Regions from separate parts of the Homo sapiens genome. Here all the other regions are reported to be linked to region 1. Evidence: microRNA targets listed by miRTarBase, many of them from high-throughput screens and not tested one by one. Region 1 holds a microRNA gene; each other region holds the end of a gene's coding sequence. Distances are between the middles of the regions.
What was found. Region 1 holds the annotated microRNA hsa-miR-4298 (CUGGGACAGGAGGAGGAGGCAG, at 3,487-3,508, shown strand). A microRNA usually pairs through its seed, bases 2 to 8, with sites in the 3' UTR of a target mRNA and lowers its output. Matches are read on the target gene's strand: a 7mer-m8 pairs with bases 2 to 8, a 7mer-A1 pairs with bases 2 to 7 and ends in A, and an 8mer does both.

Region 2: the mRNA of P2RY2 is a reported target of hsa-miR-4298. The part of its 3' UTR that is shown has no 7-base or 8-base seed match.
Region 3: the mRNA of ATG9A is a reported target of hsa-miR-4298. Seed matches in the 3' UTR shown: 7mer-m8 at 1,669-1,675.

The regions. Positions count from the first base shown.
Region 1 is chr11:1,854,925-1,863,012 of GRCh38, reverse strand. MIR4298 (microRNA 4298) reads left to right here and starts at 3,477; the gene lies at 3,477-3,549. The region is part of intron 1 of LSP1 (lymphocyte specific protein 1); the gene reads right to left. RefSeq lists an enhancer at 7,558-7,987.
Region 2 is chr11:73,234,791-73,237,790 of GRCh38, forward strand. It overlaps P2RY2 (purinergic receptor P2Y2), which reads left to right. Exons shown (of 3, transcript NM_002564.4): 3 at 1-3,000. The coding sequence ends at 503. Among named protein-coding and RNA genes, the nearest start is that of P2RY2, 18 kb to the left of the region's middle. RefSeq lists an enhancer at 2,419-2,468.
Region 3 is chr2:219,217,836-219,220,835 of GRCh38, forward strand. It overlaps ATG9A (autophagy related 9A), which reads right to left. Exons shown (of 16, transcript NM_001077198.3): 15 at 2,912-3,000; 16 at 1,545-2,617. The coding sequence ends at 2,612. ABCB6 (ATP binding cassette subfamily B member 6 (LAN blood group)) reads right to left here and starts at 1,123. Exons shown (of 19, transcript NM_005689.4): 1 at 290-1,123. The coding sequence starts at 838. RefSeq lists an enhancer at 340-1,207 and a silencer at 453-562.

The DNA.
Region 1 (8,088 bases):
CACAACCCAGGAGGAAGCAGGGAATGTCCACTAGAGACCATGGTGTTGGCCCCACATCCCCAGCATCCACAAAGCTGCAGAGACCACAGGATTCTGGAGTAAGCAGGAGGGATGGTAGCCAGGGCTGGACCTCAGGTTGGACAAATGTTTAGTGAGCTCACCCAGGGGAGGGGAGGTCACCCAGAGGAGGCAAGATTACCTGGGGGAGGTGAGATCACCCAGGGGAGGTGAGATCACCCAGGGGAGGCGAGATTACCTAGGGGAGGTAAGGTCACCCAGGGGAGGTGAGGTCACCCAGGGGAGGTGAGATCACCCAGGGAAAGCTAAATCACTCAGGGGAGGTGAGATTACCAGGGGTAGGGAAGATCACACAGAGAAACTGAGATCACTCAGGGAGGACAGATCACCCAGGTAAGGTGAGATTACCTGGGGTGGGGGGCAGTGAGCATGTGCTTCATTTGCACCTCAACCTGCCTATTTCCTCCTTGCCTCCTGTTTTAACTTCTGGAGGAGTCCCAGCCACAGACAGCCAGGAATGAAATGTGGCCAAGGCATATTTTAGTTCAAAAGAAGGAAGAATATTCCCACAGGGAAAAGAGCTACCTTGGAATGGCAGGACTTCCCTGTCACTAGAGAATGATCATCTGTCAGAAATGCTGATGGATGGGAAGTGACAAGAACAGATATTTACATGTAGCGGCCAAGATTCATGGTTTTACAACTAGAGCATGTCCTGTGAGGGACAATATGGGAGAGTATTTGATGTCAACTCCACTGTTATGTGTGCGCTCATCCATTCACCCACTCATCCATCCATCTACTCATCCATCCATCTCTCTGTCCATCTCTCCATTCATCCATCAGTTCATCCATCCATTTTACCCATCCACCCACCCATCTATTCATCCATCCATTTATCCACTCATCCATGCATCCGTCCATCCACCCATCCACTCATCCATCCATTCATCCATCCATTCATCCATCCATCCATCCACTCATCCATCCATCCACCCATCCATTCACCCATCCATCTATTCATCCATCCATCTATCCATCCACCCATCCATCCACTCATCAATCCATCCATCCATCCATCCATCCATCCGTTCACCCATCCATCTATTCATCCATCTATCCATCCACCCATCCATCCATCCACTCATCAATCCATCCATCCATCCATCCATTCACCCATCCATCTATTCATCCATCCATCTATCCATCCACCCATCCATCCATCCACCCATCCACTCATCCACTCATCCACCAATCCATCCATCCATCCATCCATCCATCCATCCATCCATCCATCCACCCACCCATCCACCCATCCACCCATCTATCCATCCATCCATCCATTCACTTATCCATCTATTCACCTATCCATCCATCCATTTACCCATCCATTCATCCATCCATCCAACCATTCATCTATTTATCTATCCATTATCCATCTATCCATCCATTCATCCATGCATCTATCCATCCACCCATCCATCCATCCACCCATCTATCCATCCATCCATTCATTCATCCATCTGTCTATCCATCTGTCTCTCCATCCTTCCATATATTTATTCAATAAATCTGTACTGAATTCAGACACTTTGAAGGTGCTGGGGATTCAGCATTAACAAAGTCCCTGCTCTTATGATGATCATGTTTCAAGTGTGGGAACAAACACATAAATAAATAAAGGTCAGATGATGGAAAATATGACAGAAAATATAAATCAGGGTAAAGGCATATGGAGTTCTGGAGGGGATTGATATTTTACGTATGATAGCCTCATGGAAATAAGTAATTCTTTCCTTGGGTCTTTATATATGAAAGCCTCATGGAAAGAAGTAATTCTTTTCTTATTTGAAAAGAGATGAGAGAAATGGGAGGAAGTGTTCCTGGAAGAGAGTGCAAAATTCCTGATTTAGTAGTGTCTACTCACACATCCGTCTTTCTAATAGTTTACTCAGCACGGATTCAATTGTCTATTGATTCATTATCTATCTATCTTTCTACTCATCTCTTGTTATATCCACCCACGTATCCATCTATTCATCTATTATCCATATCCATCCATATGTCTACTTCTCCTGACATCCTTCTATTAATCTTTCCAATCATTTATATGTCCATATTCCAGCCATCCAATCATCCACCCATACATAATTCCATCTCATGTGTCCTTCCATCAATACATTCATTTACCCATTTATACACCCATTCATCCATCATCCATTCATCCATAAATCCACTCATCTTTTGTTTTGGTACATTTGCTCATTTAGCTGTTGGGCTGATGATCAGCCAATATGCACAGGTACAACACAGTTCAATATAGGAATATATATAATCAGCACCCATTCCAGTAGATTCATATTTGTACCACATGCTTTGTTAAATATTCTAAATATCACATCTGCATTTATCTATCCACCCATCCATTCGTTCTTTCATCCAAACATCCATATATACATACAGATGTTCTTCTGTCCATCCATCTATTTTTTGTTCATCTGCTCATTTGTTCATCCATTCATCAATTACTAAATAATTCTTTCTATTTATGCATGAGTTATACTCTATTTATACATGAGTCCATCCAACCCATTCATTCATCCACCCCATCCATCTGCCCATCCATTCACCCACCTGTCCATCGATCCATGCACCTATCCATCCACTCATCCCTCCATCCATCCACCCATCCATCCATCATTCAATTATCCATCCATCCATCATTCAATTATCCATCCATCCATCCATCCATTTGTTCCTACTTCCTATCATTCTTCATTCATCTTTCCATTCATTCATACTGTTCTCCATAATTGATTCTTTTCTAATCTTTATTTTTCCTTTCTTATGCAACTAAGACATGGTTCATAAGCTCATGGCCCAAGGATAAAGCAGACCACCATGGCCCAGGAGGCTGAACACCTCAATAGAGCCTAAGCAGGGGCTACAGGGGCAGGGATCTGTCTTCATATTGACACATTCTCATCATCCCCGACACATACCTGCGAATGTATGTTCACAGAGCAGCATCCCAGTGAAAGGTGCTTTGAGCACTGAGAGAGCCCATGGGGACAGGGGAGGTCAGGGTGGTGGCCTCATTGGCTCCCGAGTGATCCCTGGTGGATAAATGTCTGTGATTTAAAGAGGAGGCAGCCTCCAAATGCTTGCAGCATGCATCTGTTCAGTGTGGCCCTCTGTTCAAGCAGGCACTGCTGACAGCAGGAGAATGGGCCAGAGCCACGGGTAGGGGGCAGGGTGGTGGGTCATGGGTGCTGGGGGCTGGGGGCTGGGGGCTGGGGGCTGGAGGCTGGGTGGTGAATGGTGGGTGCTGGGTGGTGGTGATGAAGCTCAGATTTTGGTTGGGACTGGGTCTAAGAGAAAGGCTAAAGGATTATTTCTAGATTCATCTGGAACGAATTGGCTAGATCCTTCTATCCCAAGTCCCATTGCTTTTCTGAGGGGAGGTACCTGGGACAGGAGGAGGAGGCAGCCTTGCCTCAGAAACCAAACTGTCAAAAGTGTAGGTTCCACTCAGGAAGGAGGAGCACAGGCACTTTTGAGATGAGGGGGACGTGCTCTTCTCTGGAGCAGAAAGAAGCAGTAGGTGAGGTCCCACCTGCCAGGGATGGAGCAGGAGAGTGACCCCTGCATAACCTTGAATCCTCATCTGCAGCCCATGAGCAGCTGGAGACTGGGGACTCTGGGAAGGGTACTGGGCTTAGAAGCCACCCCCTGCCCCAGTGGACAGAGTATCCTGGACACCTCAGCCACTCTCCCTGAGCGTGTGGTGTGTGTAGAGGCCCCTGCGTCTATACCACTGCTCCCAGGGAAACTGGGAACCCAGGAAGTATGCTGGAACCCTTCATGCTGTGACCTACAAATGCCCCACCAGAGCGGCCCTGCTCCAAGCACTGAGGTCAGGGGCCCATGTGCCTGCCTCCTCCTGCCGGGGGATACAGGGGACTCAGAGGCCCTCCCTGCCACAAACTCCCTTCCCCGACAACCCACAAGCAGCTTGGAGGCAGTTAGCAGATGGAGTTAGGATAGGACTTGCCTGGCCCCAAGAAAGGGCCAGGGGCTTTCCTCCTGCCACCCCTGCTCAGCATCTCCCTCCTCCCTTGTCTGCCTGTGTCTGGCACTGGTGGGGCCGTGCTGGGTGGGACACGGCTAGGAGGCCTGGCTTTCTCAATCCCCTAATCTCCTATCAACCCCACCCCCATGCAGCCCCTCCAACCTCTTTTCAGGTCCCTAGATGTTGGGGAGGGGATGGGGGCTGGGCCGGCTGTAGAGAGTCTAACCCTGGGGAAGGGGCCCTGCTGGGCTGCCCCCTGGCCGAGCCTCTCCAGCCCGCTCGCTTCCCTCTCTTCTAAGTATCAATACAGCCTCGTCCACAGCCAGGGCCTGGTTCTGTCTGCCTCAGCGCATGTGGAAAGCCCTCTTCGATTGCCTTATGGTCCTGGGCTGCCATCTCCCAGAAGGTCTTTAGTGGCCCCCAAAAAGATGCTGAGGGCTGGGATTTGGGCGGGGCTGGGCTGGAGGGAAGTGGAGGACCTTGCTGGTCCTGCAGCGCCCGGTCCCAGTTCCGCTTTTCGGGACGGTCCCTTTAAGTGCTTGCTGAGCTTGGGCCATGAGCAGTGCTCTGGTGCTCTTGGGAGCCTTTGAGTCCAGAGTGGCTGGTGTGTGGTGTGGGGTCAGAGAGACCCCGGGAAGGGCAGCCCAGCCCAGCTCCCTCCTGGTGCCCGCAGGTCTTGTGGGCCCTCAGCACCCGAACCCCACAGGGGCAAGGACTCAGGCCCCTCCCCAGGCAGGGAGCAGCCCTTGGACAATGCACTTGGCCCCTGTGAGCCTCGGTTTCCGTCTGTGAAATGGGAGGCTCCAGGGACCTGCCTCACAGCTCCGGGGGATGAAACAAGAGCCTTGGTTTAAAAAGCTTGGCAAAGGCAGGGCGCGGTGGTTCATGCTTGTAATCCCAGGACTTTGGGAGGCTGGGGCGGGTGGATCACCTGAGGTCAGGAGTTCAAGACCAGCCTGGCCAACATGGTGAAAGCCTCTTCTCTACTAAAAATACAAAAATTAGCCGGGGGCAGTGGCAGGTGCCTGTAATCCCAGCTACTCAGGAGGCTGAGGTGGGAGAATCTCTTGAACCTGGAGGGCGGAGGTTCCAGTGAGCCGAGATTGTGTCACTGCACTACAGTCTGGGCAACAGAGCGAGACTCTGTCTCAAATAAATAAATAAATAGCTTGGCAAAGACTGGCATGGAGTGAACGCTTGGTCTGAGTGGCTACATTCTGAGTGTGCAGATGGGGAAACTGAGGCTTCAGAGGGGTGCGGCTTACTCATCCAGAAAGCACTCCGAGGGCCTATAGCAGCCGAAGCAAGGCCAGCCCTGGGGCCTTGCAGCCCATCCCCCTCCCGCCGCCCCAGCAGTGGGATCTCAGGGGCTGGGACTGCAAGGCAGAGCTCACGCCCCCACCCCTCACCAGGCTGAGGACTCAGAGCGGGAGACCACTGGGCCCTTTCCACTGCCAACACCCTCCTCTTCTCTAGGGCTCACCCATCCCTCTGGCACGTTCTCAGGGAACTGAGGTGGAGACAGGCTGGCCCGTAGGGTAGCGGAGCAGAGGCCCACCATCCTGCCACCCCAGGGTGTCACCGGCCAGGGCCTGTCCCAGCTGGACCCCAGACCCTCCTGGCACTGCCCTTGTGTGGCTCCAGGATTGTTTTAGGAGACACGAGGGAACCAGGAAGGGGGCGCAGGAAGAAAGGATTCTGGCTTCCAGAATCAGCGGGGGTGGGGCCTGTGATGCTCCCACTTGTGCGACCAGCCCAGCTGGGTGTCGGTGGACAGCAGCGCCTGCCAGCCCACGAGGAAGAAGACATCCTTCTGCTTCCCTGGGAAACTTCCAGATGCCTCAGACCCCTTACCCAGGGCAGGAGGAAGGGGACCTCCCCAGGGATCCTGGGTCCAGACATCAGGTCTTGACCACAGGAAGGTGTAGGGAGGGAGCCCCAGGGCTTAGCCCTCAATCCTAACCTCCCTCAGCAGCCCCTGTGGGGCTAGGGCTGGGGCTGAGGTGGCTTCCCCAACTGTCCCCAGCTCTGCCCTCTTTCCTGAGCAGTCGTGGGCACCGCTGGGGGCTCTCAGGGCCACCTGCCCCAGCGTGGAGCATTGCACATCCTCCAGGTGGTGCCTGGCCTTGGCTCGGAGGGCAGGTGGGCGGGAGGGCTGCCCAAGGGCCTGGCTGCCTGGGGGGTTCCATCCCATGGGCTCCTGCTGCTCAGATGAAGACTTCCAGGGGGCTGCCGGGGGCCTCCAGCCCCTTCCTCCTTCAGAATCTGGAGCTCTGAGGGTCTCCAGGGACAGATGGCCAGAAGGAACCCTGCCAGAGCAGCCCCTCAGGTCATCCCTGCCCTTCCCAACTCAGCTCAGCACACAGAGAAGCGAGGGAGGCTCCGATGGGCCAGGCGGGGCTCCAGGACTGGCCCTGTCCATGGCAGGTGCTGCCAGAGCCCTGGGCAGCGGCCTCCCACCGCGGGCTGGGCAGGCCTTTGAAGGTCTGCAGAGGAGCAGGGCGGTTGGGTGATGCTAGGAGGGGCATGTGCCAGGGCTCTGACACCTTCCAAAACTGGGAAGAGCTGGGAAAGCTGGTGGGATGGGAAGTGAGTTCAACCAGGCCAGGAGGGCCTGGCATGGCCACCCAGGGGCATGGAGTTTGCCTGTAGCTGGTGAATGGTTCTTTCCGTGGGAGACACGGCCTGGTCGCTCATGGGGAACAGACTGGGGGTAGGGTCATCCTGATGGGGGCCTGGGCTACACAGGGGCAGACTGAGAGGGCAGCCAGGGTGTCTGTGGGACAGGGTGGCGGCAGGCAGACTTGCCTTCTAGGTGTGGACATGGGGTGGGCACGCCTGGGCGGGTGGGCACCCCCGGGCAGCTGGGCCAAGGACAGGCACTGCAGCCAAAAATGCAGTGTGACCCCAGGGAGGGTACACCCCTGCAGAGCTGGGCTCCAACATCTGGATATGTCGAACCCAAGGTCTGAGAGGGCAACCTGACCCTCCCCAGCTGTGGACCAGGACGCCCCGTCCTCATCGCCTCAAGGCCTCCAAGGCCAGATAGTTCCTCAGTGTGGGGAGAGCCTTGCTCTTGGGGGCTATAGAGGGCAGGCATCCCCCAGCGTCACCAGAGAGTCCCCCCAGAGCCACAAGGCAGCTCTGTGAAATCCTCGTCCCTGCCCCCAAGGGACAAGGACAAGCTAGTGACTGTCTGCTGGACAGCGGGGCGAGACAGGAGTGCCCCCGAGTGGAGGAACCGCAGTCCAGCCTGGCTGGTAGCCGAAGCGGAGCCTGGACCCCGCCCAGGGTCAGGGGACCTTCTTTGGCCTGAGGCCTCGTGGGAGAGGACAGTCCTGTCCTGGGGGCATCTGAGAGACCACATCATGGAGGGGTGGTTCTGAGGAATCTGGCCCCGTCCCGGGCAGTCTGAGGGGAGGGGCCACATCATGCGACAGTCTGAGGGGCTGGACCCACTTGTCCAGCTGGAGGGGCTTGGCCTGCCCTGGACCTAGTGTTGAGGGCATGTCCTGAGACCGTCACAGGCTGGCGTACCTGGCACTCTGTGACATGCACGGGGGGCTGTCTTGTCCACTGCTCCAGCCCCAGCTGAGCCTGCCCAGCCTGGGCCTTCCTGGGGACTCCCGTGTGGGGGCTTCCCAGGCCATACATCCCTGCCTGGGTGCAGGGGACTTCTGTCCCATCCTAGACAGGAAACTCCCCGGTTCCCTTAGTCACCTTGTGAAATGAGAAGCCTACCCCACTGGGGCTCTCAGTTTCATTCTGAAAGGTCAGGCTTGGCTGCGCACCCCATGCAATTCGCGGGGGCAGGGGATGTCCAAGGAGGGGGTCCAGGCTTTGCAGAGCCCAGGAGAACCGCCGCTCTCCAGCTGGAGCGCCTGACAGCCCCGGCACAGGTGCAGCCCTGGCCTCCCAGGATCTGCACCAAGATGCCCCAGGATCATCTGTGCCTTGGCCATGCCCGCTCCAACCCCCCCTCCCCGCTCCTGGCCCGG
Region 2 (3,000 bases), 71 Mb from region 1:
TTGCCGTCATCCTTGTCTGTTACGTGCTCATGGCTCGGCGACTGCTAAAGCCAGCCTACGGGACCTCGGGCGGCCTGCCTAGGGCCAAGCGCAAGTCCGTGCGCACCATCGCCGTGGTGCTGGCTGTCTTCGCCCTCTGCTTCCTGCCATTCCACGTCACCCGCACCCTCTACTACTCCTTCCGCTCGCTGGACCTCAGCTGCCACACCCTCAACGCCATCAACATGGCCTACAAGGTTACCCGGCCGCTGGCCAGTGCTAACAGTTGCCTTGACCCCGTGCTCTACTTCCTGGCTGGGCAGAGGCTCGTACGCTTTGCCCGAGATGCCAAGCCACCCACTGGCCCCAGCCCTGCCACCCCGGCTCGCCGCAGGCTGGGCCTGCGCAGATCCGACAGAACTGACATGCAGAGGATAGAAGATGTGTTGGGCAGCAGTGAGGACTCTAGGCGGACAGAGTCCACGCCGGCTGGTAGCGAGAACACTAAGGACATTCGGCTGTAGGAGCAGAACACTTCAGCCTGTGCAGGTTTATATTGGGAAGCTGTAGAGGACCAGGACTTGTGCAGACGCCACAGTCTCCCCAGATATGGACCATCAGTGACTCATGCTGGATGACCCCATGCTCCGTCATTTGACAGGGGCTCAGGATATTCACTCTGTGGTCCAGAGTCAACTGTTCCCATAACCCCTAGTCATCGTTTGTGTGTATAAGTTGGGGGAATTAAGTTTCAAGAAAGGCAAGAGCTCAAGGTCAATGACACCCCTGGCCTGACTCCCATGCAAGTAGCTGGCTGTACTGCCAAGGTACCTAGGTTGGAGTCCAGCCTAATCAAGTCAAATGGAGAAACAGGCCCAGAGAGGAAGGTGGCTTACCAAGATCACATACCAGAGTCTGGAGCTGAGCTACCTGGGGTGGGGGCCAAGTCACAGGTTGGCCAGAAAACCCTGGTAAGTAATGAGGGCTGAGTTTGCACAGTGGTCTGGAATGGACTGGGTGCCACGGTGGACTTAGCTCTGAGGAGTACCCCCAGCCCAAGAGATGAACATCTGGGGACTAATATCATAGACCCATCTGGAGGCTCCCATGGGCTAGGAGCCAGTGTGAGGCTGTAACTTATACTAAAGGTTGTGTTGCCTGCTGAGCTGTGCCCTATTGTGTGGTCGGGGGATGAGGATATGGCAGGGAAGCTTTCACCAGCCACACAAGGGTCCTTTCTCCAATCCGTTCCCTTCTGCCACCTGCCTTCTCACTAGCTGTCTCAGGAGTAGTCTCATATCAGGGATCCTCTCTCCAGGCCCCAGGTCATCCCCCACTGTAAAGCCAGTTGGCTTCTGTGCCTGACTCTGTGCTGAGCACAGAGAAAAGTCAGGTGCAGTCCCAGTCCTTGAGATTTCCCAGTTTAGGTGATGGCCAGTCATGTGCTGGTAAATGTTAAGCCATTTAACTGGAGCTCCGATTTAACTGGGAACCCCTTCTTTGTAGAACTGCCCATTTCCATGGTGCAAAAACTCTTATGGCCAAATTCAAACTATAAACATGATGTCAACTTCCTTGTAAAATTCCTGAAAATTTAACAATTGGTTCTTGCAAGCAGGTACAAGTCACTCTAGCACACCACTGGATAATGCCGAGTGGCTGGGGCTGTGAGCCAGGGGGTCAGGGAAGGGTTCCTGGAGTGGGAGACTCCTGAGCTGTAGCTTCTGAGAAAAGCAGCTCACCGGAAGAACATCCACACACAGGATGCATCCCAGGCAAAGACATGGGGCAAGAGGGCAGGGTGTGCATGAGCCATAAGCAGGCTGGACAGCTGACTCCAGGCTCAAGGCAGGGTTGGGGCTGGGTCACAAGGAGGCCAAGTTAGGGCTCCCTCCTTGCCCTGACCCTGAGGCTTCCTTTGCACTGGGGGTAAATATGAAAGAGATTCACTCCTCCTCCTGTCCATCGTCTGCCTTCTGGGAAAATCCCAGAATGGCAGGGTGGTGCTCAGGCTGGGTCAGGACTTAGTATGGGGGAGATGGGTCTCACCTATGATAGGTTCTGAGTCTAGCCAGGACCACTCTGGGCTGACGTGTGGCGCTCAGCTGGACAGGGCCCCGCCCTAGCCTTTGGAAAGGGACAGGGCAAAGCTGACAGGCCTCACTCTTGATCTCAAGGACAGGGACTCCCTCCTCTCCCTCTGGGAGAGCCCTCGCCCTGTGGCCCACTCTGCCTGCCCCCTCTGACCTCTCCACCCTTCCCACTCTGCCTTGTGAAAGGCAGGACATCCCCAAAGCTTGCTGTATTTGGAGCCTGACTCCACAGCGCCCTCATGTGACAGAGACCCATCACAGACCATGACCCAAATGATTACTCTGTACTGTGCCAGGTGGGTGACCTGCCCAGAATAGTGTGAGCTATTCACCTCTCACCTTCTAGGTTCTATACTTCTGTTAATGTAGCCGATGTCCTTCTGAGTTTTTTTTTTCTTTTTGAGACGAAGTCTTGTTCTGTCACCCAGGCTGGAAGTGCAGTGCTGCGGTCTTGGCTCACTGCAACTCTCTGCCTCCCGGGTTCAAGCAATTCTCCTGCCTCAGTTTCCCAAGTAGCTGGGATTACAGGTATGCGCCACCACACCTGGCTAATTTTTGTATTTTTAATAGAGACAGGGTTTCGCCATGTTGGCCAGGCTGGTCTCAAACTCCTGACCTCAAGTGATCCACCTGCCTCAGCCTCCCAAAGTGCTGGGATTACAGGTATGAGCCACCGCACCCGGCCCCTCTTGAGCTTTCTTAATGATTGCCTGTTACAAACCACCCTTGAGCCTTTCCCACAGGCCCGAGCCACTCCACAAGGACACAGGAGGGGCTCGTTCACCATCTAATCCTGTGGCAGGCACAGGTGGGGGTGGATACTGGAGACCCTGGGTGAACCAGGGGCACCTCTGGAACCCAGTTGGACTGCCTGGCCCCTTGGTATGCACGTCCCACCTTGCTGCTCAGTGCCCAGGCCACTTGCCTT
Region 3 (3,000 bases), not on the chromosome of region 1:
TCATTGAGGATAAAATTTCATTGTATTACTACTTATAATAGGGCCGGGGACTGGTGTCATGAACACATTCAGCACTTACAGGCTTAAAAAAAAAAAAAAAAGCAAAACCACAGTGACTCAGCAAAGACACACCCCACCAGCTGGCTATCAGCTCCCGGCAGGACTCAGCCCCTCCCTTCTCCCTTTGCTTAGAGGCATCCTAAAGCCTGGAAGCAGTGTGACTGGACATGCAGTGCTTTCTCCCAAGCCCGGCCAGCAGAGGCTTCCCCCTTCCCACAGAGTCCCTCACCTGCTGGCCCAAGTCTGCCCTTGCCCACCACCACTGTGGGCTGTTCCAAGACACCAGGGCCAAGTTCTCAGCTGCAAACGCCACAGTCCAGAGGAGCAGGAGACCAGGGCTGTGCCTGAACTTGATCCAGATGCCCATTGCCAGACGCTGCCGTGCCTGGCTCCGCTCCACGACAAGCAGCCACAGGCCACAGGCGCCGGCCAGACTCTCCAGCACGGAGGCCAGAAGTAGATAGCTTGGCAGTGGGGCCCCCCGGGCAGTGCCCACCCGGCCAGCCAGGCCGGCCAGGGGCAGCGCCGCCTGAAGTGTGGCCAGAAGCAGCTGCAGCACGTAGGGAGAGATGCGAGGGCCGGCCCCCCAAGACAGCGAATCAGCACCAGCGGGCCGCTCCCGGCGTCTGCAGGGAAGAGCCAGCACCAAGGCCAGAGTCCCCAGAGCCATCCGCGTCGAGGGCACGAGCGTGAAGAAGAAGCAGGGACTCAGGCCATCCTGCATCCAGGCCGGACCCACGGGCCCTTCGGCCTCGCAGTAGTTGCCCACAGTCACCATGGCAATGCGTGGACGCCGGCCGAGGCTGCGGGCACTGCGGGACCGGAGGCCGGGACTGGTCACTCGGAGAGGGGCGCGGACATCCGGGTGCCTTGGCTCACGTAGCCGCTGGGCGCCAAGCTGCGGGGGTCCCGGGAAGGGACGCACGTGGACCAGGCCTCACCGCCCACTCCCCTAGCGCACGCGCCGCCGCCACGCACTCACGCAGGGCACGTACGCCGTCTCAGCACGGCCCCGCTGGCTCTGGGCCCGGGACCCTCCTGCCAACTGCAGGCCCACGGGAATGCTCGGTGTTGGACTCGCACCGCGCTCCACGGCTGTAGCCCCGCCCACAGCCCCTACCCACGGCTCCCATTGGCCAAATGTCTCCGAGGGGGGAGCGGGGGGAATGGTGCAGGCAACGAATGCAAATTAGAGAAGCAGAGCCGGCTTGGTCACGTGCCCAGGGCGGGAAATCTGACGACCAGGCCGAGCTGGAAACCTCCACGGAATCGTGGCTCGGGGCTGGAAACAGACCTCACGGAATCCTGGCTCGGGGCAGGACACAGACCTCCACGGAACTGTGGGTCGGAAGCTGCCCTTCCGCCAGCCGCCTTGCTCAGCGTATCTGAGCGACGGCCTAAACATACTTTCTTCTAGACCCCGGCAGAGTCCCCATCCCATTTCTCTTGTTCCCAGGATTCTAGCCGCGCGAGACAACAAGAAGTCTGGTCAAACTCCCTTTTTATTAAGGGTTATCAAGCTGTACACGGTCCCTACCCTGCTCCGCTCCGAGTTCGGGCAGCGCAATTCACCACTCTCCCAAAGCCGGACCACAGCTGGGTGAGGGGTGGGACAGAGAGTAGGAGCAGTCCCAGCATGCAGTGCAGCAGCCCAAAGCCTCGGGCGAGGCATCGCCCTTCATCCCCCTTCAGGGCACAGCGAGATGCGGGCCAGAGCTCTTTTGCTGGGACGCACACAGCCAAGGTCACCCTCCAGCCCGGTCTGTCCCATGTGCAGGTGATGGGGGGTACGATAAGCAGCAATGAGGGCCCAGGAAGACCTCAGTCTCCTGGGGGCCCATCCTAAAAGATGGCAAGGGCAGCAAAGTATTTCCATCCTGCTCCTACAATTTAGAAACCTTCTTTTTTAGTGTCAAAATATAGCGTTGAGGGGAGCTGGACGCTAGGGTCTTCACCCTAACGCAAAGCAAAAGCCGAACGGAACGGGAGCAAGCGAACAGAACAGGAGCAAGCAGCACACACAGGCCAGTGATGTGCAAGAAGCGGAGAGAGGTGAGCCGGCTGCAGCACTGGGCGAGAACTGCGGGTGAGGTAAGGGCCACAGCCTGACCTGCTCATCTATTGAGGGGGCTAGGGAAGGTTGCAGGGGTTGAGGGTCCAGGCCCAACCTCCCCACTCCACAGTTGGCACAGGTTCTCCCTGCTTGGCAGCTTCTATCGTGGGCAGCCCTCTGGGGACTTGCAGGGGTAGGTGTAAAGGTGGCAGTACTGGGGCTGGGCTGGGGGCCAGTTTCTAGCACCACACTCTGAGCCAAGGGGGTCCTGGGGATGAGGCTAGAGTCCCGTGTGCCCTCGGTTCCTAGGCCCCAAATTCCTCTCCTGGGGCTGTGGCAAGCCCAGTGTTGGCACCTCCCTTGGCCAGGCACAGACACACAAACACCACACACGTGGGGCCAGGGAACACTCAGAGGAGCCGTCCCATGGCAGGCAGACGGGATGGCAGGGCAGCGGTGGCCTCCATCCTGGGCCACAGGAACCCTGCTCAGCCTTGTCTATACCTGTGGGGAGAAAGGGTTGGTAATGGAGATAGTCTTCAGCTTCTGGTTGATACCTGCTAGCCCCATAGAAACCTAGAGGTAAAGGGACAGGAAAGGTTGATTCCTGGGGAGGTAAGGTAAGGAAAAACCAAGCCCTGCAGAGCAGTTGAGAAAAGAAGGGGTAGTGTGTTTTGGAAGGGAGGGTACAGTATCTCTGTGTGGGGGTGGGGCATATCTTCCTTCCCCTGAAAAGCTGTTACCTCACCCTGGAAGTTACTATTTCTGGCAGTTTTTCCTAGGCCCCGGGGCCCTTACCTTGTGCACCTGAGGGGGTAGCTCATCCTCCGAGCCCTCTTCGGGCACGGGCTCAGGGTGCCTTGATGCCGACTGCCCATCTTCTGCCC